Linked DNA regions of Homo sapiens. The protein of the gene in region 3 purifies or fractionates together with the protein of the main gene of each other region. This does not show direct contact. Each region holds a gene or a part of one and is shown on either strand. Other genes may lie near its edges.

The links.
Region 1: the proteins of KIF11 (region 3) and ANKLE2 purify together in Homo sapiens (affinity purification with mass spectrometry; one large-scale study listed by BioGRID and IntAct). This does not show direct contact.
Region 2: the proteins of KIF11 (region 3) and IRAK4 purify together in Homo sapiens (affinity purification with mass spectrometry; one large-scale study listed by BioGRID and IntAct). This does not show direct contact.
Region 4: the proteins of KIF11 (region 3) and FLYWCH1 purify together in Homo sapiens (affinity purification with mass spectrometry; one large-scale study listed by BioGRID and IntAct). This does not show direct contact.
Region 5: the proteins of KIF11 (region 3) and TPX2 purify together in Homo sapiens (affinity purification with western blotting, with the first as the bait; one study listed by BioGRID). This does not show direct contact.
Region 6: the proteins of KIF11 (region 3) and RBM45 purify together in Homo sapiens (affinity purification with mass spectrometry; one large-scale study listed by BioGRID and IntAct). This does not show direct contact.
Region 7: the proteins of KIF11 (region 3) and CEP350 purify together in Homo sapiens (affinity purification with mass spectrometry; one large-scale study listed by BioGRID and IntAct). This does not show direct contact.

The regions. Positions count from the first base shown.
Region 1 is NC_000012.12:132,744,833-132,748,332, forward strand, and holds part of ANKLE2 (ankyrin repeat and LEM domain-containing protein 2), read right to left. Parts: intron 3,500-3,500; coding exon 3,306-3,499; intron 3,189-3,305; coding exon 3,000-3,188; intron 1-2,999. UniProt on the Homo sapiens protein: Involved in mitotic nuclear envelope reassembly by promoting dephosphorylation of BAF/BANF1 during mitotic exit.
Region 2 is NC_000012.12:43,779,451-43,782,950, reverse strand, and holds part of IRAK4 (interleukin-1 receptor-associated kinase 4), read right to left. Parts: intron 645-3,500; coding exon 461-644; intron 1-460.
Region 3 is NC_000010.11:92,596,130-92,599,629, forward strand, and holds part of KIF11 (kinesin-like protein KIF11), read left to right. Parts: intron 1-729; exon of another isoform or gene 730-1,160; intron 1,161-3,500. UniProt on the Homo sapiens protein: Motor protein required for establishing a bipolar spindle and thus contributing to chromosome congression during mitosis. Required in non-mitotic cells for transport of secretory proteins from the Golgi complex to the cell surface.
Region 4 is NC_000016.10:2,942,931-2,946,430, forward strand, and holds part of FLYWCH1 (FLYWCH-type zinc finger-containing protein 1), read left to right. Parts: intron 1-396; exon of another isoform or gene 397-554; intron 555-3,500. UniProt on the Homo sapiens protein: Transcription cofactor. Negatively regulates transcription activation by catenin beta-1 CTNNB1, perhaps acting by competing with TCF4 for CTNNB1 binding. May play a role in DNA-damage response signaling.
Region 5 is NC_000020.11:31,780,790-31,784,289, forward strand, and holds part of TPX2 (targeting protein for Xklp2), read left to right. Parts: intron 1-1,459; coding exon 1,460-1,601; intron 1,602-2,915; coding exon 2,916-3,132; intron 3,133-3,500. UniProt on the Homo sapiens protein: Spindle assembly factor required for normal assembly of mitotic spindles. Required for normal assembly of microtubules during apoptosis. Required for chromatin and/or kinetochore dependent microtubule nucleation.
Region 6 is NC_000002.12:178,125,937-178,129,436, forward strand, and holds part of RBM45 (RNA-binding protein 45), read left to right. Parts: intron 1-47; coding exon 48-240; 3' UTR 241-248; intron 249-3,422; exon of another isoform or gene 3,423-3,460; 3' UTR 3,461-3,500. UniProt on the Homo sapiens protein: RNA-binding protein with binding specificity for poly(C). May play an important role in neural development.
Region 7 is NC_000001.11:179,957,810-179,961,309, reverse strand, and holds part of CEP350 (centrosome-associated protein 350), read right to left. Parts: intron 1-3,500. UniProt on the Homo sapiens protein: Plays an essential role in centriole growth by stabilizing a procentriolar seed composed of at least, SASS6 and CPAP. Required for anchoring microtubules to the centrosomes and for the integrity of the microtubule network.

The DNA.
Region 1 (3,500 bases), on a different chromosome or scaffold from region 3:
ACCACGCCCAGCTAATTTTTTGTATTTTTAGTAGAGACGGGGTTTCACCGTGTTAGCCAGGATGGTCTCGATCTCCTGACCTCGTGATCCGCCTGCCTCGGCCTCCCAAAGTGCTGGGTTTACAGGCGTGAGCCACTGCACCCGGCCTCACAAATCTTTCTTAAACTACAATACTGGCTACCATTCCTATTAAAACAGCCAGCAGAGGCAGCTCCCGGGCAGCGTGCGTGCAGTGAGCAACCCTGCTGCTGCCTGCTCGGCTCCCACAGCCCATCACTCGGCTCCCACAGCGCCCGCACCGCGGCCCATGACTGCCTGAACACAGACGCCGCCAGCCAAGATGTCAACCCGAATTCTCCTCACAAAGGCCTGCCGTCCAACTCCATGACCAATGTCCCTGTTGACACAGGTGGGGCTGCCCAGGCTACTGCTGTTGAGGGTCTGACAGAGGCTGAGGAGGAAGAGCTCAGGGCCCAGCTACCAAGACGGATGAGGAAACTGTCACTCTACACCAGTGCTGGCAGCCAAGGAGGGGGACTGTGGAGAGCTTGAGAGGAGGCTGGGCCTCTCTGCCTTGGAGGCTGAAACGGAACCCTCTCTAACGCCTATGTGAAGACTTCTGAGAAATGTGGAAGTGGAATGAGAAAGTGGCCCACCCGGATCTCTGCAAGACTCAGGAAATGCTCCCACAGCAAGACAGAAGACCTCAACCAAGACAGAGACCTCAGCGGCCCTGTCCATGGTGGGCTCTGCCATCAGTAGGAAGCTCGGAGACGTAAGGAAATTTGCAACTTTCAAGTCGTTTGAAGACCAAGTTGGGCCCATGAAGTCTAAGGTCGTGGGTGACAGAGAACAGCAAGGACAATCTCCCTTCCTCAGCAGGGAGGGGCGACGAGCCCGTCGGATCCCGCACCTCTCTAAGCCTGTGGTCGCTTACGCTCAGCTGCAGAGCACACACACACACCCTCAGCATCACAGCCGGAGCTCTGAGCAACAAAGCGGCCAGCCAGGACGCACACGCAGAGCCGGCTTTGAGAATAGTCCTGCCCATCCACAAGGAGACGTGGCTACCGCATCCACATGAATTTCAACAGTTGTGTACATAGTTATATACTAAAGTTTGTAGGTGAAACAGATAACTGTGCTGTCCTTCCTAGGGGTACAGGAAGTGGACAGGGCGGAGGATTTGAAATACTGAGCCAAAGCCCAGGCTCCCTTTAAGAATCACGTTAGTGGCCAGGCACGGTGGCTCACGCCCGTAATCCCAGCACTCTGGGAGGCCAAGGCGGGCCGATCACGAGGTCAGGAGATGGAGACCATCCTGGCTAACACGGTGAAACCCCATCTCTACTAAAAATACAAAAAAATTAGCCAGGCATGGTGGCGGGTGCCTGTAGTCCCAGCTACTCGGGAGGCTGAGGCAGGAGAATCAGTTGAACCCAGGAGGAGGAGCTTGCAGTGAGCCGAGATTGTGCCACTGCACTCCCACCTGGGAGACAGAGCAAGACTCTGTCTCAAAAAAAAAAAAAAAAAAAGAATCAGGTTAGCCCATCAGAATGTTGAAGCATTGAAGAGTCCTACGCATAAGTGGCATTTTTGACCTCCTCCTTCCCTAACTCACAGAAGGAATGCAATCACCCAGAAAGCCCTACCTGTTCCATGAGTTTTTATCTTGAAATGCTAAACAAGAAGTGTCCATTTCCTGCCCACAGAAAGTAAACTGAATATCAACAACTGCCCAATTGTTGTACTAATCTAGCTTTAATGAAAAGCAAATTCATTATTTTTTTTTAATGCAGTGGACTTTTCAAAAATCGAAATTAGGCAAAGCAGCTTTAGCCTCCTAGTGAGAGAATATTATTTCTTTGGACTCAAGCTGAAATTCAAGCCTCACATTACCTCATGCTTTATTTATCATAAACATATAAATGAGGGTTGCTCAATGGCTGTGAGTACTGTGTGGGATTTTACACCTGGCCTGTGTGACTGCCTGTTCCAGTTGGGGTGTTGGTTTCACTAACACGCTCCATCCCAGTGTATAAAACTTGCTTCTCTTCTCAAGCAGGGCAGCTCCCCTGGCTCCCTACTCTGCCCTGAAGGACTTTTGGGCTCCCAGGGGTGGGAGGGGCTAAGAGAAGGAAAAGCCTGTCTTTAGCACCCTTTAGAAGAGCTGTGCCCGCTTCCCAGTGCTGCCTTGCATGGGCCTGGCCCGGGGGGCACTCATCAGTGACTCCAACCCGCCTGCTGGCTGCACTTCAGATGAAATGACCCCACAGGTCAGGTGGAGGGTGGGGCATGGGCATCGGCCAGGATTGCTGTCACCTTTTCTCCGGAGCTACCAAGATCGTTCCTGTTTCTAAGCAGTCGCACCCCAGCAGCCTCTCTCTCTCCACAGCCCTGCGTGTCAGGCAGCCTCTCTCTCACACCACAGCCCTGCGTGTCAGGCAGCATCTCTCTCTCTCCACAGCCCTGCGTGTCAGGCAGCCTCTCTCTCTCTCCACAGCCCTGCGTGTCAGGCAGCCTCTCTCTCTCTCCACAGCCCTGCGTGTCAGGCAGCCTCTCTCTCTCTCCACAGCCCTGCGTGTCAGGCAGCATGGTTTGCAGGGGCAGCTCTGTGCCTCAGTGGCTCTTGGTAGGACACTGAGGGCCTGCCTGTGGTGTGCACAGCTCTGCCACTCCCGGGAGGGGAAGTGCTGCTCAGCTCAAGGTGTCCTGTTCGGCAGAGGAAATGTCCTCTGACAACCGTGTCCCCAGACAGTTCAGACACCCTCGGGGACAGCATCGCACACACGACGACAATGCAGGGGCCAGGGAACCCCAGCGCTCGGTGCCCTTTGTCCAGTGGGATGTGGTAAGAAGGCAGGTTGCAGGGGTGTAATTGATGTATCTTTTCCCCAAAGTTATTATACTAATGAGTAACTTGTCGATAAAGCATTCTTTTGGGGAAAGACTTTTAACCAATTAAATAAAGAAAGCGTGAGTGGAGGGTGTGCACGCACCATCTTGTCGGGGGTGTTGAGGTACAGGTCCACCACGTAACGGATACGCTTCTGCAGCATGGCCTCGTCGTCATCAGGGTACATCAGCCTCATGAAGTCAGGGTTCTCCAGGACGTCCAGAGTCAGCTGGCAGATGGAAGCCTGGTTCTCTTTGGCAGCAACATGCATCACGTTGTACCTGCACCCTTCCTGAAAGAGAACCGCATGCTCTGAGCTTCCTATCTGATGTGTGGACACGCCCTGTGCGAGTGCTGCGATGGAACGGCCGGGACCGCACACCTGCCCGAGGGAACCGCCGAGACCTACCTGCACGATAGTGGGGTTGTCTCCTGAGCCTATCAGATACCGGGGGTTGCTCCAGATAAGGTCAGAAAAGGTGTCCTCCTCTCCCTTCTCCACAGCTTTCCGAAGCTTGGCGGTGAGGTCCTGCGTGCGGGGATTTTTGTAACTGTTCGCTCGCTCTTTGTTGACTGTTTCTGATTCCGACAAGCACAAACCATC
Region 2 (3,500 bases), on a different chromosome or scaffold from region 3:
CTTATTTTCAGTGCTATGAAGTTAAATTTCCATATATGAAACACGTATGAAAAAATAAAATGAAGAAAAAGCCCCCGGCTTCTTCAACCACCCACACCTATCTCTTGCTCTATCTTAAAAGTTATTGGGAATAGAGAGGTAGATTAGTAAATGTCAAAAAATGTGAGACTAAAGTATATACTGTATGACATGATTCATTTAATGCATTAGGTGTCATGCTAATTCATAAAGACAGATGGCAAGAAAATCATTTCTTGTAGTCATTTCAAAAATCAACTCAAAAGTTTTACACATTGGAAGAAGTTTTTATAAACTTTCTGGTATAAGTAGAGGTTAATGTGAAAAACTTATATTGTTACATAAGAGAGATAAACAAGATGGGTGTATTAAATAATATTCTCTTCATTTTCACAATTATAGCAGAATGATTATTTTTAATAATTATGTATACGGAACTTACCACACCAAAGCTGTAAATATCAGATTTGGGTGTTATTTCTCCACGCAAAGCTTCTGGTGCCATATAAGCTGTTGTTCCCACAATTCTGCTAGTCATGACTGTCTGGGCAAACTTCTCAGAAGCCCGTGCAAGGCCAAAGTCAGATATTTTAGCAGTAAAAGCTTCATCCAGTAAGATATTTGCACTGAAAAAAATGTAAAGTTTGAAGAAAAAAATGTTTTTCCCACCCCAAAAAAGTCAAACAGTTCCTTAGCTAGATGTACGTATGTATGCATGTATATATGTATATGCATACATGCATATGTACATACATATTTACAGAGTGTAACGTTTTATAGTATGCATCATAAAAGCCTAAAGTTTATAGAAATAAACCTAGAATTCAGATTATAGCTAAAGAGAAGCAACTGTCCTCTTTTTTTATGTTTCTTGAGGAAAACATTTAGGAGAATAAAAATGAAATAAAACTGTCTACATTAGTAAGAGATATTTTCATTATTCCACAAATCATTTATTATAGGGTAAATTACTACAAAGTCTTCCAAGGCACCTTTATTAATTCCTTTCTTAGTATGTATCAATTCATTTCAAAACAAATTTCCAACCAAAGTATCTCAATTATGAATTTCTTTATTCTTTTGTTCTGTACTATCTGGCTTTTGAAGAGAAAAAAATATGGCCAAAATATCTCAATTAATTCATTATGTGCTTTCATACTTTAATTCAACACAATCTTATTGAGAACTCCCTATGTTGTGTAGTATTTAAGCTCACTGCTGGGCATGGCGGAGTCTTAAAATCTTGTCTGTGACAAAGGCATAAATAATTTTTTAAAACAATGGTAATATTAGGTACAAAATGCTGAGAGAACAACCATGTGCCTGGAAAAAGTAGGAAAAATTTCAAACAGAGGGTGAAAAGTGTGCTTAGTATTGAAGGATTATTAGAAGTTAATAGTTATATGAGGGAAAGAAAGGCACTCCAGGCAAATGGAGTAACAGGTACAAAGTGACAAAAACATGATATGGTATACATGGTCAACTTCAAGGAACGAGTGTCCAAGAAACATGGAGATAATTTGCATTTTATCCTGTGAGCAACAGGATACCAGCTAAAGTTTTCACAGTAGGAAACTGATGTTATTAGACTTAACTTTTAGGACCATGACCTAGTAGTGTGGTAGTGAATAGATGAGAACTGATAGGCTGGATTTAGGTTGACTACGAAGGTTTGTAACAAAGCAAATGGGAGATAATGAGGGTTTAAATGGTCATAACATGGGATAAATGGAAAGTGAAAATTTTGAGGCTCACACAACAGAATTTTGTAATTAGCATGATATAGAGAATGAGAACGTGTTCAGTTTGAGAGACAGAATGAACAGTGACTTCACTGGATCAGAAAGGAAATGTGGGAAGACTTTAGGTTGGGAAGAGCTGATGAGTTTGATTTCTAATGTTCTGACTTAAAGGCTACTGTGGGATACCCAGATGAAGTGTTTTTGGTACGGGGATACTAAAAATCCAGGATTGGAAGCTAATAATACAGATTCAAAAGACACTCACATATAAGTAGCAGTTAAAATTAACATAATATCACTCAGCAAAAACATACAGAGAGAGGCCAGGCGGGTGGCTAATGCCTGTAATCCCAGCACTTTGGGAGGCCAAGGCGGGCGGATCACCTGAGGTCGGGAGTTCAAGACCAACCTGATCAACATGGAGAAACCCCATCTCTACTAAAAATACAAAATTAGCAGAGCGTGGTGGTGGATGCCTGTAATCCAAGCTACTCAGGAGGCTGAGGCTCGAGAATCTCTTGAACCCGGGAGGCGACGGTTGCAGTGAGCCAAGACCGCGCCATCGCACTCCAGCCTGGGCAACAAGAGTGAAACTTGTCTCAAAAAAAAAAAAAAAAAGAACATACAGGGAGAAAAGAGACAATGATATAAGAACACAAGAAAGTACCAATCCATGAAGGATAGGAGATGGCGTTTCTTTTCTCATCTAGGGTCAGTTCCTCTGCTTGAGCTGCTTTCTACATTCTCAGTAACCCTACTGAACACATCATCTCATTTCTCTCTTCCATACTATCCTCTCCCTTTTAATCTGGATCCTTCCTATAGGCACATAAGCACAGCTTAATCTCTGCCAGCTTAAAAAAAGTTTCCTGAATGACTTATCTATTTCTAGCTGTCCCCTTCACTAGTAAAATGTCTTAAAAGACTTGTCTATACTCCTATCTCAGTTCTCTAGCTCTCACTCTCTCAACTACAATGTGATTTCTAAACCAACTACTACCTGGAAATGGGTTTCCATAAAGTCACCAAAGACCATGGTGATGCTAATCCAATGATTAAAGCCCTTGACTCTTTTTGACTACTCCCTCTTGGGAAACACTTTCTTTCCTCGTTTTCAGGGACTCCACACTCTCCAGGTTTTCATCTTACCCTTCTCTGTATGTGTACTTCCTTAGATTCCTTTTTGTGATCATCTCTTCTATTTGGCCATTAAGTCTTAGGGTTCCCCAAGACTTAATCTTGTGACCTTTTCTTAATCTACATCTCCCCTCAAGTGAATACAGTCACTTCAATTATCACCTGTATGCAAGTAATACACATTTATATCTTCAGCTCAGACCTCCAGCTCCAAATCTGTATATCACACTGTCTACCATCTCTACTACTACATCTTAAAAGCACCCCAAACACAACATGTACAAAAGAGAATTCACATTTTCTAACCATCTCTCTAACCCCAACCTAACCAAGTCTTTTTTCAGTCCTTTCTACATAAGTGAATCATGCCATAATCATTCCAGAATGCAAGTCTGGATGCCATTATTCCAGGAGTCATTCCTGATACTTCGCTCTTCCTGAACCCCTGCATAGCCAAGGTATCAACAAGTTTTGCCATTTTAATCTTTCTAATCTGCTCCCCTCTCTTCTTATGAACTGCCACCTATGATAGCCTACTAACTGCCTCTTCTTACAAACTGTTCTCTACACTAGAGTTAAAATCATCTTTGCAAAACTTAAATA
Region 3 (3,500 bases):
AGGAGCTGGGACTACAGGCGCCTGCCATCTCTCCCGGCTAATTTTTTGTATTTTTAGTAGAGACGGGGTTTCACCATATTAGCCAGGATGGTCTCCATCTCCTGACCTTGTGATCTGCCCGCCTTGGCCTCCCTAAGAGCCGGGATTACAGGCGTGAGCTACGGAGCCCGGCCTTGAGTTACTTCTTACTTTTAGCTATTATGAATAATGTTGCTATGAATATGGGTTTTCAATTCTTTTGGGTATTTACCCAGAATTGTAATTGCTGGATCATATGATAATTCTATTTTAAAGTTTTTGAGGAACCGACAAACTATTTTCCACAGTGGCTGGACCATTTTACATTCCTACCAACAGTGCATAAGGGTTCCAATTTCTCCACATCCTCACCAACGTTTATTTTCTGTTTCTTTTTTTTTTTTCAAGTAGCCATCCATTGGGTGTGAGGTGCTATCTCATTGTAGTTTTGATTTGTATTTCCCTAATGATTAATGATGTTGAGCATCTTTTCATGTGTTTACTGGCCATTTTGTGTATCTTTGGAGAAATGTCTGTTTAAGTCCTTTGCCCATTTTTAAATTGGTTTGCTTTTTTGTTGTTGAGTTTTAGGAATTTTCTATATATTTTGGATATTTTCAGATACATAAACGGCAAAAATTTTTTCCCCATTACTGTGGTTTGCCTTTTTACTCATTGATACCGTGTGGTCTTTTCCTTTCTTTTTCTTTTTGGAACCAGTGCATGGCCTCTTTGTTGATTCTGTGTTTGGCCCCAGTGCAGCCTGTTCTGTGCTATGTGTCTGCAGTGCTGAAACCAGGCCTACCCAGCACCATACAGAAGTCCAGGCTGTAGATACCAATGCATGGGTCACATTTGATACCCAAATCTGTGTGTTCCTGGATCTCCAAACCAAAGTTTCCAGTATCTGAGAAGTTGTTCTTTCTTGATTCACACTCCTGCATCTTTAGACCTTTCTTCAGGGTTTCTTCTGCTTTGGCCCTTTGTGCAGTGGGTGGCAATCTTCACTTCTCCTGATGCCAAAGGATCTGACAATGTATTTGACTTTGGAGAACACAGGGGTCTGGCCTATGAGCTGCTCCAACACCTTGGCTGCTGGGGTCAGTCATCTCCAGTCTCCTCCATACAGATGTTGAGACAGAAAATCGTTCTGTCACCCAGGCTGGAGTGCAGTGGCACAGTCTCGGCTCACTGTAACCTCTGCCTGTCAGGTTCAAGCAATTCTTATGCTTCAGCCTCCCAAGTATCTGGGATTACAGGTGTGCACCACCATGCCTGGCTAATTTTTTGTATTTTTAGTAGAGATGGGGTTTCGCCTTGTTGGCCAGGCTGGTCTTGAACTACTGGCCTCAAGTGATCCACCCATTTTGGCCTCCCAAAGTGCTGGGATTATGAGTGTGAGCCCTCATCTGGCCAGAGTTCTCTTTTTTTTACCTTGATCTTGCACTATGATGGAGAAAAGGAAGATAAAGTCTTTTTTTTTCCCTTGGGTTTGTTTGTTTGTTTGTTTGTTTGTTTTTTGAGACGGAATTTTGCTCTCGTTGCCTAGGCTGGAGTGCATTGGTACGATCTTGGCTTACTGCAACCTCCGCCTCCTGGGTTCAAGCCATTTTCCTGCCTCAGCCTCTAGAGTAGCTGGGATTACAGGCATGCGCCACCACGCCTGGCTAATTTTGTATTTTTAGTAGAGATGGGGTTTCACCATGTTGGTCAGGCTGGTCTTGATCTCCTGATCTCAGGTGATCCGTCCACCCTGGCCTCCCAAAGTACTGGGATTACAGGCGTGAGCCCGTGCCTGGGCTATTTTTTTTTTCTCCCCTTTAAATATAGTATCTTGCTTTATTGCCCAGACTTGTTGTGAACTCCTGGACTCAAATAGTCCTCCTACCTCAGCCTTCCAGGTAGCTGGGATCACAGGGATGCTGTCTTTTGATACACAAACATTTTAAATTTTTATGAAGTCCAGTTTGTCTTTTTGTTTTTGTTCCCTGTATCTTTGGTGTTATATCCAAGAAATCATTGCCAAATCCATTGTTGTGAAGCTTTTGCCTTATGTTTTCTTCTAAGAGTTTTATAGCTTTAGGTCTTACATACATTTTTGATCCATTTTGAGTTAATATTTGTATATTGTGTTAGATAAGGGTCCAACCTCATTCTTTTGCATATGGATATTTAGTTTCCCAGCACCATTTGGTGAAAAGCTTGTCTTTTTCTGATTGAATGGTCTTGGCAACCTTATTAAAAATCATTTGCTCATATGTAAGAGGGCTTATTTCTAAGTGCTGTTATGTTCCATTGGTCTATAAGTCTGTCTTTATGTCAGTACCACATGGTTTTGATTATTGCAGCTTTGTAGTAAGTTTTGAAATCAGGAAGTGTGAGTCCTCCAGCTTTGTTCTTTTTCAAGATTGTTTTGGCTATCTGGACTCCCTTGGGATTCCATATGAATTTGAGGATGAATTTTTCTATTTTTGTAAAACACGTCATTGGGATTTTAATAGGGATTACATTGAATCTATAGATCACTTTGGGTAGTATTGGCATCTTAACAATATTAAGTCTTTCAGTTCATGAACAAGGGATGTGTTTCCATTTATTTATGCCCCTTAATTTCTGCCAGCAGTTTTTTTTTGTTTGTTTTTGTTTTGAGATGGAGTTTCGCTCTTGTTGTCCAGGCTGGAGTGCAGTGGCACAATCTTAGCTCATTGCAACCTCCACCTCCCGAGTTCAAGTGATTCTCCTGCCTCAGCCTCCTGAGTAGCTGGGATTACAGGTATGTGGCACCACGACCAGCTAATTTTTGTATTTTTACTAGAGACAAAGTTTCACCATGTTGGTCAGGCTGGTCACGAACTCTTGACCTCAGGTGATCCACCCACCTTGGCCTCCCAAAGTGCTGGGATTATAGGCGTGAGCCACTGCGCCTGGCCTCAGCAGTGTTTTATAGTTTTCATTTTATAAGTCTTTCACCTCCTTGGTTAAATTAATTACTAATATTTTATTCTTTTTGGTGCTATTTTAAATTGAGTTGTTTTTGTAATTTCCTTTTTAGATTGTTCATTCTTAGTGTATAAAAATGTAACTGGAGGCTGGACGCAGTGGCTCTCACCTGTTATCCCAGCACTTTGGGAGGCAAGGTGGGCCTCCCAACTCCTGATCACGAGATCAGGAGTTCAAGGCCAGCCTGGCCAACATAGTGAAACCCTGTCTCTACTAAAAATACAAAAATTAGCCATGCATCGTGGCGCGTGCCTGTAGTCCCAGCTACTTAGGAGGCTGAGGCAGGAGAATCGCTTGAACCTGGAAGGTGGAGGTTGTGGTGAGCCAAGATCGTGCCACTGTACTCCAGCCTGGGCAACAGAGTGAGACTCTGTCTCAAAAAAAAAAAAAAAGAAAAAAGAAACGTCGCTGGATTTTGCTTGTTGACTTTCTATCCAGCTACTTTGCTGAATTCACTTATTAGTTCTAACAGTTTTTTTTTG
Region 4 (3,500 bases), on a different chromosome or scaffold from region 3:
ACCTCAAGTGATCCACCCGCCTCGGACTCCTAAAGTGCTGGGATTACAGGCATGAGCCACCACGCCCAGCTGGCATCTGGGAACTTGACTGGTAAAGAGCTCCTATGTGGATACAATACTATCCCCAAATAACAACTGCTCACTCTTTTCTATACAAATCATGTGATATTTGCTGAACACTTGCTTTTCTTCTGAGCCTGGCATTTCGGTGACCATATTCAGTCACGCAGGCACAACGTACCTACATGAGCAACCCCCAGTGAAAACCCTGGACTCCTGGGCTCAGGCAGGCTTCCCTGGTAGAGAACACTTTGCACATGTCACAGCTCGAGGCTGGAGGATTCAGCACATTCTGCGGGAGGGGACCCCAGGGGAGGGGACTCTGGGGGCTTGTACCTGGTTTCCTCCGGCCCTCACCCCAAATGCATCTTCCTGTTACTAATTCTGCGTCGCATCTTTTCACCGTAGTAAATCCCAGCCACTAGTATGATGGTAGGCTAAGTCCTGTGAGTCCCTCAAGTGCAGTCACCAAGCCTAGTGTGTGATGGGGATGCCTGCATACCAGATCAGTAGAGAAAAGGACAAAAACCGTGTGATCACTGAATAGACACAAAACATTTGACAACCTCCAACACGCTTTCATGATAAAAACATTCAACAAACTAGGAATAAAAGGAGTTTCTTCAGCCTGATCAAGAGCATCCGTGAAAACCCCCACAAGCAGGCCAGGCGCGGGGGTTCACGCCTGTAATCCCAGTACTTTGGGAGGCCGAGGTGGGCGGATGACCTGAGGTCAGGCGTTCGAGACCAGCCTGGCCAACATAGTGAAACTCTGTCTCTACTCAAAATACAAAAAATTAGCCAGGCGTGGTGGCGAGCACCCGTAATCCCAGCTACTTGGAAGGCTGAGGCAGGAGAATCACTTGAACCCGGGAGGTGGAGGTTGCAGTGAGCCAAGATCACGACATTGCACTCCAGCCTGGGCAACATAGTGAGATCCCGTCTCTACAAAAAAATTTAAAAATTAGCTGTGTGTGGTGGTACATGCCCAGCTACTTCGGAGGCTGAGATGGAAGTGTCACCTGAGCCTGGGAGGTTGAGGCTGCAGTGAGCTGTGATCATGCATCTACACTCCAGCCCAGCGGACGGAGAGAGAACCTGTCTCAGAAATAAAAGTAGAGCACGACAGCTCCCACCTGTCATCCCAGCACTCTGGGAGGCTGAGGCGGGCGGATCACCTGAGGTCAGGAATTCCAGACCAGCCTGGGGAACATGGAGAAACTCCGTCTCTACTAAAAATACAATAGCCAGGCTTGGCTACAGGTACAGCGCACCTGTAATCCCAGCTACTTGGGAGGCTGAGGCAGGAGAATCGCTTGAAACTGGGAGGTGGAGGTTGTGGTGAGCCGAGATTGTGCCATTGCACTCCATCCAGCCTGGGTGACAAGAGTGAAACTCCATCTCAAAAAAAAAAAAAAAAAGATCACATACAATTATGTATAGTACCTAATATTTGATAATGATAATAAATATGTTATTAGATTATTTACTATACTTTTTATCATTACTTTAGAATATACTCCTACTTATTTAAAAAGTCAACTGTAGGCCAGCCACAGCATTGGCTCACACCTATAATCCCAGCACTTTGGTAGGCTGAGGCAGGCAGATCCCCTGAGGTCAGGAGTTCCAGACCAGCTTGGGAAACATGGTGAAACCCCGTCTCTACTAAAAATACAAAAATTAGCTAGGCATGGTGGCGCCAGCCTGTAATCCCAGCTACTTGGGAGGCTGAGGCGTGAGAATCGCTTAACCTGGGAGGTGGAGGTTGCAGTGAGCTGAGATGGTGCCACTGCCCTCCAGCCTGGGCAACAGAGTGAGACTCTGTATCAAAAAAAAAAAAAAATTTTTTTTAACTGTAAAACGGCCTCAGGCAGGTCCTTCAAGACTTTTTGGAGGTATCCAAAAGAAGGCACTGTCGTCATAGGAGATGACAGCTCTAAATGTATTATTGTCCCTGAAGACCTTCCAGTGGGACAAGATGTGGAGGTCGAAGATGGTGACATGGATGACCCTGACCCTGTGCAGGCCTAGGATAGTGTGTGTCTTAGTTTTTAAGCAAAAAATTCAAATCCTTGGCCGGGCATGGTGGCTCACACCTGTAATCCCAGCACTTTGGGAGGCTGAGGTGGGTGGATCACTTGAGGTCAGGAGTTCAAAACCAGCCTGGCCAACGTGAAGAAACTCCATCTCTACTACTAAAAATACAAAAATTAGCCAGGTACAGTGGCTCACGCCTGTAATCCCAGCACTTTGGGAGGCCGAGGCAGGCGGATCACGAGGTCAGGAGATCAAGACCGTCCGGGCTAACACGGTAAAATCCCGTCTCTACTAAAAATACAAAAATCAGCTGGGCGTGGTGGCGTGTGCCTGTAATCCCAGCTACTCGGGAGGCTGGGGTAGGAGAATTGCTTGAACCAGGGAGTTGGAGGTTGCAGTGAGCCGACATTCATGCCACTGCATTCCAGCCTGGTGGCAGAGCGAGACTCCATCTCAAAAAAAAAAAAAAAAAAAAATTAGCCAGGCATGGTGGCACACACCTGTAATCCCAGCTACTTGGGAAGCTGAGGCTGCAGTGCACTGAGATCGTGGCAGTGCACCGAGATCGTGCCACTGCTCTCCAGCCTGGAAGACTACATCTCAAAAAAAAAAAAAAAAATACTGTCTCAAAAAATTAAAGTCCAACTTAAAAATTTTAAAATCCTTAAAAATAAAAGCTTATAGAGGCCGGGTGCGGTGGCTCATGCCTGTAATCCCAGCACTTTGGGAGGCCAAGGTGGGCAGATCATGAGATCAGGAGATCAAGACCATCCTGGCTAACATGGTGAAATCCCATCTCTACTAAAAATACAAAAAATTAGCCGAGCGTGGTGGCAGGTGCCTGTAGTCCCAGTTACTCGGGAGGCTGAGGCAGGAGAATGGCGTGAACCCGGGAGGCAGAGCTTGCAGTGAGCCGAGATTGCGACACTGCACTCCAGCCTGGGCAACAGAGCGAGACTCCATGTCAAAAAATAAATAAATAAAAGCTTGTAGAATGAGGTTCTAAAGAAAATATTTTTGTACAGCTGTACAATGTATTTGTGTTTTAAACTGAGTGTAATTAAAAAAAGCAAAAAGTTTAAACATCAAGTTACAGTAAGCTTAGGTTAATTTATTACTGAAGAAAGTGTTTAAAAATGAGTGTAGCCTGAGTGTTGAGTGTTGTATACTAAGTGTGCAGGACATACACTAATGCTTTAGGCCTCCACGTTCACTCACCCACCCACAGCAACTTCCCACCCTGCAAGCTCCATTCATAATTCATGCCCTGTATAGGTGGGCTGTACTTTTTTTTTTTTTTTTTTTTTTTGAGATGGAGTCTCGTTCTGTCCCCCAGGCTGGACTGCAGTGGTGAGATCTCGGCTCACTGCAACCTCCGCCTCCCAGGTTCAAGCGATTCT
Region 5 (3,500 bases), on a different chromosome or scaffold from region 3:
TTAACATAGTTTTTAACTTTCTCCATTTGATTTTCTGTAAGATGTGGTCTTGATGCTTTTATATTGATTTCATAAAATTGGGAGTTTTCACTTGGTCTTCTTTTGTTATTTATTTATTTATTTATTTTCCTTCTTGTTTTGCTTTTTAGAGACAGGGTCTTGCTCCGTCACCCAGGCTGGAGTGCAGTGGCGTGATCATGGCTCACTTCAGTGTCCAACTCCTGGGCTCAAGCAATCCTCCTGCCTTAGCCTTCCAAGTAATTGGGACTATATATAGGTGCATGCCACCATGCTTACCTAATTTTTATATTTTCTTAGGAGACAGGGTCTCATTATGTTGCCCAGGCTGGTCTTGAGCTCCTGGCCTCAAGCAGTTCTCCTGCTTTGGCCTTCTAAATTGCTAGAATTACAGGTTTGAGCCATTCTGTTCAGGCTTTACTTGGTCTTTAGGAAGGCCTTATATCTTTTTTTTTTTTTTTTTTTTTGAGACAGAGTCTCGCTCTGTCGCCTAGGCCAGAGTGCAGTGGCGCTCATTTGGCTCACTTGGCTCACTGCATGCTCCGCCTTCCAGGTTCATGCCATTCTCCTGCCTCAGCCTCCCGAGTAGCTGAGACTACAGGCGCCTGCCACCACGCCCGGTTAATTTTTTGTATTTTTAATAGAGACGGGATTTCACCGTGTTAGCCAGGATGGTCTCGATCTCCTGACCTCGTGATCCCCCTGCCTCGGCCTCCCAAAGTGCTGGGATTACAGGCGTGAGCCACTGTGACCGGCCAGGAAGGCCTTATATCTTAAAGCTGGAATAAGCAAAAATTTTTTGTGTTAATAACAAGCAAAATAATTGGCATTGTCAATAGAAAGTATAGGCCTGGCCAGGCACAGTGGCTTAACGCCTATAATCCCAGCACTTTGGGAGGCTGAGGTGGGTGGATTGCTTGAGCCCAGTAGTTCAAGACCAGCCTGGGCAACATAGTGAAACCCTGTCTCTACAAAGAATATAAAAATTAGCTGGGCATGGTGGTGCATGCCTGTAATCCCAGCTGCTTGGGAGGCTGAGGTGGGAAGATCACCTGAGTCCAGGGAGGTTGGATTTGTAGTGAGCCTTTATGCCCCTGCACTCTAGCCTGGGCAACAGAGTGAGACCCTGTCTCAAAAAAAAGAAAGTCAGTCTAGGCCCGTGCAGTGATAAGGAACCTGTCAGACATGGATGGATTTTCAGTTCAGAAGATGACAGTAGAGTTTACCCAAAGGCTACCTTAGTCATACCCCTCAATAAAAGAGGAATAGGGGAGAAGTAACTGAATGTTGGTTGGTTTGACCAATGTAAGCTGAGCTGACTGTTGTGGGCCCACCACTCTGTGGTTGGTTTATCCCTCTCTGGGCTACATAGGTGAATCACCACTTACAAGTAAACTGGGTCTTGCGGATCTAGATGAACATCTGTCATCTCTGTTTACAGACCTGTTACCCTCCAAATCTTCTGTGACCAAGATTTGCAGAGACCCACAGACTCCTGTACTGCAAACCAAACACCGTGCACGGGCTGTGACCTGCAAAAGTACAGCAGAGCTGGAGGCTGAGGAGCTCGAGAAATTGCAACAGTAAGTCCCACTGGCAGTATCTGAGGAAGAGTTCCACGAACCTGCCTACTTTATTTTCAGTTCTGTTAGGGTGACAGTTGCTATTTTTCTTTCCGTAAAAATTTATGGCATTTGAGTAGTAGGCTCTGCAGGCTACGCCCCTGCCTATATGATTTAAGGACTATAGTGGGAATATGGAGATGTTCTGGAGTATAAACTGGTAAAAATTGAATCCAGGCTGGGTGTGGTGGTTCACACCTGTAATCCCAGTACCTTGGGAGGCCGAGGCAAGAGGATCACTTGAGTCCAGGAGTTTGAGACCAGCCTGGGCAACATGGTGAAACCCCATCTCTACAACAAATACCAAAAAAAAATTAGCTGGGCATGGTGGCATGCGTCTGTAGTCCCACCTACTAGGGGGCAGCCTGAACCCAGGAGGTCAATGCTTCAGTGAGCCAAGATCACGCCAATATACTCCAGCTTGGGTGACAAAGCGAGACTGTCTTGCACATACACACATACACACACACACACACACACACACACACACACACACACACACAAAATCTAATCCAGAGGTTGCAGTAGAAGAACTTACTTAGGATTTCAATTAAGGAATGCCCTCTAAGGTTAAGTTAGGTAGATCCCACCCTTTTGTGACTCCCCAAGGGATTGTTACAGCTATTATTAGTGGAGGGAAATGGAAACTTAGTGTGATTCGTAGCATTGGAGTTTATTTCCTGTATCCTTCTTCCATTCCTTTTTGTGCTTCTTTTGAGGAGGGGGAGCTTCTTCTGTGAAGTGAAGCCTCAATTCTTAAGTGGTAGGGATGTTAGGACTGTCTGATTTATTCTTTCTTCTTTTATTCTTTTATTATTTTTTATTTATTTATTTTTTTTGAGATGGAGTTTCGCTCTTGTTGCTCAGGCTGGAGTGCAGTGGTGCCTCTAAGCTCACTGCAACCTCCGCCTCCTGGGTTCAAGAGATTCTCCTGCCTCAGCCTCCCTAGTAGCTGGGATTACAGGTGTGCACCACCACGCCCAGCTAATTTTTGTATTTTTAGTAGAGATGGGGTTTCACTGTGTTGGCCAGGCTGGTCTTGAACTCCTGACCTCAAATTATCTGCTCACCTTGGCTTCCCAAAGTGCTGGGATTACGGGCATGAGCCACCGTGCCTGGCCCATTGTTTTTCGTTTTTATTTATTTTATTCTGTTGTCCAGTCAATGGGAGCATAATCTTAATGATTACTATTCTTTGTGGTTGGCTTACTTTGTTTGTGAAGTTTTCATTTTATTAAAATTTTTTTTGTGGTTATTTAAATTTTCACCTTACAGATACAAATTCAAAGCACGTGAACTTGATCCCAGAATACTTGAAGGTGGGCCCATCTTGCCCAAGAAACCACCTGTGAAACCACCCACCGAGCCTATTGGCTTTGATTTGGAAATTGAGAAAAGAATCCAGGAGCGAGAATCAAAGAAGAAAACAGAGGATGAACACTTTGAATTTCATTCCAGACCTTGCCCTACTAAGATTTTGGAAGATGTTGTGGTAAGGTTGAGGCTATGTGTGCTGGCAGAAGTGTACTGCTCATGACCAGATATCCACCCATTCACACAAAAGTTTGGGTAGATATTATGAGCAGGGCATCATATTAGGAACTGCAGGTGATAAAGAGACTTATCGGAAGTGGATTTTGCTTTTAGTTAACTCAAAGTCTGGTATGGGAGACAATATATGTGTGAATAATAGAAAATGGACAGAAGTGTTCTGAGAGAGATGACAGTTAAAATAGGAATTCAGAGGAGAAAATGGTTTCTTCCAGATAGAAAGTTCAGGGTGTGCTTTGTAGAGAGGCACATTTGACCTGAGCCTTGACGATGTACTGTAGTAATAGTTATTGTGTTGCTATTGTTGTC
Region 6 (3,500 bases), on a different chromosome or scaffold from region 3:
GTTGTATTTATCAATTTTGGTTGATTATTTTTTTCACTTTGTTTCAGTCGTTTTGGTAACCTGATCGAAGTTTACCTTGTGTCAGGAAAAAATGTGGGGTATGCCAAGTATGCCGATAGAATAAGTGCTAATGATGCCATTGCCACTCTACATGGAAAGATTCTGAATGGGGTGAGACTTAAAGTTATGCTGGCAGATTCGCCAAGAGAAGAATCTAACAAACGGCAAAGAACTTACTGATTCTTGAGGTAAGCCCTTTTTAATCTGAATTTTAAAACATATTGAGTAAATAGTATATGAGGAATATGTGTAAGTACTTTATAAACTTTTCTTTTTAGTGATTTAGAAGTTGTCAGTTAAAAGAGCTTTGCAACTATTTAAACTTTAAAAATTGTTGACATTTACTGAAGAATGTTTTTGCCCTTCTGTAAAATAAAATCACATTTCAATTTAGAAAGATAAATAATTGTTTTTTGTTTGTGAAATCTTCGATTTTAAGAATTCAACTTTTTATTATGTGCTTATATAAACTTTTAAGTTGTCCGGTGCTAGAATAAGGATTGCTTTAAAAAAAAATTGAAATACTTCTAAAGATTTTTAACTTGAAAAATTGGTGTCTTGAGTTATGAATTGAGGTAATTTATAACAGTCGTTTATAAAGATAATGTTTTGACTTCTCTCTAATGAAATGCCTAAAAAGCAATATCAAATAATATATCATTTTTGGACCTTTTGAACCTAAATGTTGGTGTTTTCTGGACTTGTATTTGTGAGTTTGTGCATTAAAACAATACATTCAGAAAATATTCTCGTATGCATATATGTATTTTTTAAGAAAACCTGACAATTTACCAAAAACTCTTTATTGTAAATTTTGATACATACAGCCATATGAATTCCATTTCCTATTTTATTTATTAGTTTTCAAAAATCAAACTACAATTTATTTGACTGTGACAGTGAGTTTATATCTGTGTGGTTTGGGGAAACATTCCTTAAAGTTTGACTTTTTTTTTCCCCCGAGACGTCTCGGTCTGTCACCCAGGCTGGAGTGCAGTGGCGAGATCTCGATTCACTGCAACCTCCACCTCCTGGATACAAGTGATTCTTCTGCCTCAGCTTCCCCAGTAGCTGGGACTACAGGCGCGTACCACCACGCCTGGCTAATTTTTTGTATTTTTAGTAGAGGCGGGGTTTCACCGTGTTTCGATCTCCTGACCTCATGATCCGCCCGCCTCGGCCTCCCAAAGTGCTGGGATTACAGGCATGAGCCACTGCGCCTGGCCTAAAGTTTGGCGGTTTTTATTCTGTAAAATAATTCTGAATTTCAGGGGAAGCCGTTTTCCTGTTCCCACACACTAACTTTCCAAGTCTACTATAGGTCAAATGTAGTAGATGGCAGGCACTTTGAATTCAGTTTGAAGTTACTGGCTTGAAACCTTTATTTTTTTCACTTAAGATTTTCTTTCTGACCAATTGTGTGAGCTAGCACGTATGAGAATGATTCCTGCCAGGCCTCACTGCTGATGACCCTTCCTCTCCTAGAACAGATCACATGATTAGTTCCTCCTTCATAGCTTCATAGAAGGCATTTGACAAGAGAAAGTGCCCATTGGGCCCATAATCCTAATTTTTAAATCTTTTTAAATGTTTTATTAAATGACAAAACCACTCTCATTGTACCATACATTGTTAGCAATTTAACCCTGGATATATTAAATTGGGAGTGGAAAAGAATTAGCAAGCATTTTTTCCTGTTTATGGATAAAATGTTAAGAATGAATTCTGTTTGGAGAAGCTATTCTCTAGCATGCAAAAAATGTGTTTTTTCTAGTCTGTGAATATTTCAATAATAGGAAATAAATAGTTCTTGCTTTTACTCAATAAATCTTTGTTCTTAAAAAGGACAATAATATAGACTTTAGACTTCTCAGTATAGAAAAGTATATAAATTATTCTTGTGGTTGAACCTTTTCTAATGATTATTTACATGTTAAAGAGAATATTGGGCTTAAAATAAAAAGCCATTTAACTGTGACTGGGCTGGTCTCTACGCCCTTTTTTTTTTTTTTTTTTTTTTTTTTTTAAACACAGAATCTTAGTCTGTCACCCAGGCTGGAGTGCAGTGGCCTGATCTCAGCTTACTGCAGCCTCTGCCTCCTGGGCTCAAGCAGTCCTCACAGCTCAGCCTTGCAAGTAGCTGGGACTACAGGCATGTGCCACCATGCCCAGGTAATTTTTTTTGGTAAGACAGGGTTTTGCCGTGTTGCCCAGGCTGGCCTTGAACTCCTAAGCTCAAGTCATCTGCCTTCCTCGGCCTCCCAAAGTGCTGGGATTACAGGCATGAACCACTGCGACTGACCCTCTTTGCCTTTTTGAGGCCCAGTTTTCTCATAGGGCTTTTGAGAGACAATGAGTCAACAAAATGTAAAATGAAAAAAAGGCTTTGCAAGTCTAAACTAAAACTCTTGCATTTGTAGCTTCAGTGAAACCTTTGAGATGTCCTCTTATCTAAAATAATGACATCCAAATGATCAGAAACTAAAAGTATAATGATATAAAACTACCTTGTGGCCAGTTGGTACTGTGAGAACTAAGCTTTATAAATACCACATTTTTCCCTTAAACTCATCCAATTTCCTACATCAGAGGAATTGCATTTTCAGCATGGCTGTTCATAAAAATTTTAATCTATCATTTTTCCCTTTTTTGAACTGTTACGCATATTCAGGGCAGAGATAAAATAGGGTCAGGTTAGTTGAAAATGGCTGTTTGGATAGGATACGATTAGCTACACGGTTTTGAATTTCTTCTAATTGCAGCATGGCTTTTTTTATTTTTGCTGCGGATCTCCTATTTACAATGGACTCCATTATGAGATTCTTCTTCTTTGTTGGTGTATTAAATAAACATATTACCTTATTTTAAGTTTCGATAAAATACTGTGGAAGACTTTGCCAAATTTTATATGATTGTGACAAGTTTTTTGGGGTAGGTGCACTTTTTTGTTTGTTTCTTTAATTTTTAAAAGGCTGCAAACACAGCTCATGAAGGCTGGTTTCTTTTATCTCTGAGGTATGGGCCTGGGATTAAGTGAGTCATGCCTAGGAAATAGAAGCAACTGATCCAAGGATATAACATTGAAAGTAGTTGAATTCTATTTTGAGATGGGTCTGATAACCACAATGTAATTCTCTTTCTATTTGAGGAAAATATAAATTTTAGTATTTCAGAGCATCAGATTTTTTGTTAATTCACAACACTTTCCCTCTAGAAATTCAGCACCTGCATCGCCCTTCTTAGTAAGTTTGGTTTTATTTGGGGGCAGCTATGATTAAGCAGATAACATTGGGTATATTGAAATAAAGGAACAATTCCTAACATTTTAGGAATACTACAACAGCTATTTCCTTTCCTTTCAGGTGATGATTTTCATACTTGTGTTGTGTTCTTTCTACAGAACAAAGACTAAATAATGACATAATCCTCAGCTGACTGAC
Region 7 (3,500 bases), on a different chromosome or scaffold from region 3:
CGCCGAGCTAATTTTTTTGTATTTTTAGTAGAGATGGTGTTTCACCACGTTGGCCAGGTTGGTCTTGAACTCCTGACCTCAAATGATCTGCCTACCTCGGCCTTCCAAAGTGCTGGCATTATAGGCATGAGCCACCGCGCCTGGCCATGAGGCTGTTTAAAGTAAAACTTTGAAAAGTGAAACTTTTGATTCATTATATGTATACACATACACGTATAACACACATCTATTCTTTTTATTTAAAAAAATAAAAAATAAAGATAAATGTAAAAAATCAACCTTTGGGAGCACAGAACATGGAAAATATATATAGGTGTCCTGGTCAAAAGTTCAAGAGGTTCCTAAACTTTCTCAGTTCACAGACCCCTCAGTATGCCAGTTATTTTTTTCATGGAACCCCTAGGCCAAAAAAATACCTAACAGTTCCATTTACTAAGTAGTTCAGTCCACAACCTAAAAAGTATTTATAGCCTACCAACTTAGTAGCAGATCGAAAAATAAATATGTATAAATTGAAATAAATATTTTTATTACTAAATTACCACAACTACTTAATAGGATGTGTGTACCTACTAGATATTACACAAGTTCTCAAATCTTGAAATCATTTTGGACACCACCACCTTCATTTACTGTTCCAAATTGATTTTTGCATAGTACTTGCTTTTTATCACAGCAAACTCCCAAAACCTAGCGTTTGGAAGACACAGTGTCATCAAAAAAAATGGAACACAATCTCTTGTGTGGTATCTCAAACTGGTAGTTTGAGTAGTGTCCTATAGATGTCAAATATCCCACAGCTATCCAATATTGCTGTTTCCATTAAAATTTCTCAAATAATGCATAGTGTCCAGGTGAGTTACTATGGTGCTCCACAGTACGGCAGGTCCTCCATAACATAGTTTCATTCAATATCATTTCTTCACAATTTTGATGAGAAAAAAATTTTGATTTCCCCACCAGGGCTACCATCTATGTGGAGCCTGCATGTTCTCCCCATGTCTGTGTGGCTTTTCTCCGTATGCTCCAGTTTCCTCCCACATCAGAGAGGTGCACGCATTAGGTGAACTGACATGAATTGGCATGTCTATATGGTCCCAGTCTGAGTGAATGTGGGTGGGTGGGTGGGTGTGTGTGTGTCTGTAAATGCTACCTGCAATGGAATGGCAGCCTATCTTGTGCCCTACTTGCCGGGACAGGCTCCAGCCACCTGCCATCCTGAACTGAAATAAGTGGGTAATTATCTTGTTTTTAGTATTTCTTAAATGTATGCATAGGACCCATTTATTTCAATGTTTAATATTAGAGGTGTTTGGGGTCTTAGAAGTTGCAGTTTCCAAGTACTTATGGACAACATTAAGTGAGGATTTACTTCAGTGCACAGTTTAGGAATACTGGATTTAAGAAACACTGATCTAGCCTACGGGTTTACTTTGTAAAGTAAGAAATAAGACTTAAGGCTACAAAGCTAGGAGAAAAACAAATATATTTATTATAGATTTTCCTAAATTTCAACCTTCTGCCAACAAAAGTTTTTTTGTTTGTTTGTCTGTTTTGAGCCAGAGTCTTCCTCTGTCACCTAGGCTGGAGTGCAGTGGTGCAATCTTGGCTCACTGCAACCTCTGCCACTCAGGTTCAAGCAATTCTCCTGCCTCAGCTTCCCCAGCAGCTGGGATTATAGGAGCCTGCCACCATGCCCAGCTAGTTTTTTACTTTTAGTAGAGATGGGGTTTCCTTATGTTGGCCAGGCTGGTCTGAAGCTCCTAATCTCAGGTGATCTGCCCGCCTCAGCCTCCCAAAGTGCTGGGATTATAGGCATGAGACACCGCACCCAGCCAACAAAAGTTTTGTTTGTTTTGAGATGGAGTCTTGCTCTGTTGCCCAGGCTGGAGTGCAGTGGCAGTCTTGGCTCACTGCAACCTCCACCTCCCTGGTTCAAGCAATTCTCCTGCCTTGGCCTCCCCAGTAGCTGGGATTACAGGCCTGCCACCACGCCTTGCTAGTTTTCGTATTTTTAGTAGAGATGGGTTTCGCCTTGTTGGCCAGGCCGGTCTCGAACTCCTGACCTCAAGTGACCCACTTGCCTCGGCCTCTCTAAGAGCTGGGATTACAGGCGTGAGCCACCAAGTCCCAGCCCTTCCATCAACAAATGTTTTGACACAGGATCTAATTATGAGACACTCTGTTGATGAAATGTGTAGATCTCTAAAAATCACATTCAAAAATACATTTATATCACTATTTAATAGAAGAAAAAATTTACTTCCTTTTTTTAGAAAAAAGTTTCAAAAATTATAAAAGTGATTCTTACAATAAAACCATACAAAAATGTCTAAAGTAAAAAAGAAAAGTCATCCACTCCCTCAGGAATAACATGTTTAATGTCTATCCTTATAGACCTTTTTCTATTCACATGCAAAATGAAAACAAAACTACATTTGTCTATGTGTTTTTTAAATAAATCATATTCTATAGTATAGTGCAACTTATTTTTTCACTTAATTTTATATCATGAACATTCTTCCAAGTCAATACATAATTGTAACAGCAAACACTTATGTGGCGCTTATTAATGCTTATTTAGGGCCTAACTGTTAACTCATTTAATTCTCATGGTACCCCTGTAACATGAGAACTACTAGTATATCCAATTTATAGTTGACTTTAAGTAATTCGCCAAGAGTCACAGCTAGAAAGTAGTGCAGTTAGGTTTTGAATCCAGAAGGTCCACCGCATGGTTCCAGGAGCTGAAGGATATGCTCAGCTGCTGCTCATGAAGTAAATATAGATACCCTGAAACCTGTTAACAACTGCACAGTAATTCACAGCATAAAAATACTAGACTTTTAACTATTAGCCTACCAACAGACATTTAGGACATTTTTAAATTATTTATAAATGTTATTGACATCTTGAAATAATGCTAATATAAACATTCTTATACAATTCCTATGCTGTTAAAATTTATGTAACATAAATTTTAAGCAGGAAATGATTCTATCAAACAATATATATACTTTTAATCTTGATAGGGAATGCCAAATTTCCTTCCAGAAGGTTGCTCCAATGGTATCAATTTATAGTCCCAACTACAGAGGAAAGGGTTCAGATTCATTTTTAAGTTAACACTTTGGATTCATGAAAAAAAAGGCCCATTTTGAGTTTTTAATTAATACTGAATAGACTGCCAAGTTGATCACAATTATGTTCTGATTTTATAATTATCTGACATATTAAACAAATGTAGACTTAGCAGCTGTGCAATGGATTCTTCTCCCAGTTATGAAATCAACTATGCATGAGATATCGCCCCTATACAACCTTCTGTTTTCTTATGTATAAAATATGGGAATTGGACTAGCTGGCCTTGAAGAATTTAAACTCCCAATACTGAGATTAAGAAGTGACTTAAAGTTATTACAAGGCTATAATTATAGTACTAGTATAACAGGTTAGGGTCTTAAAGTTTATATTTTCTTTAAATTACCGTAACCTGTTGC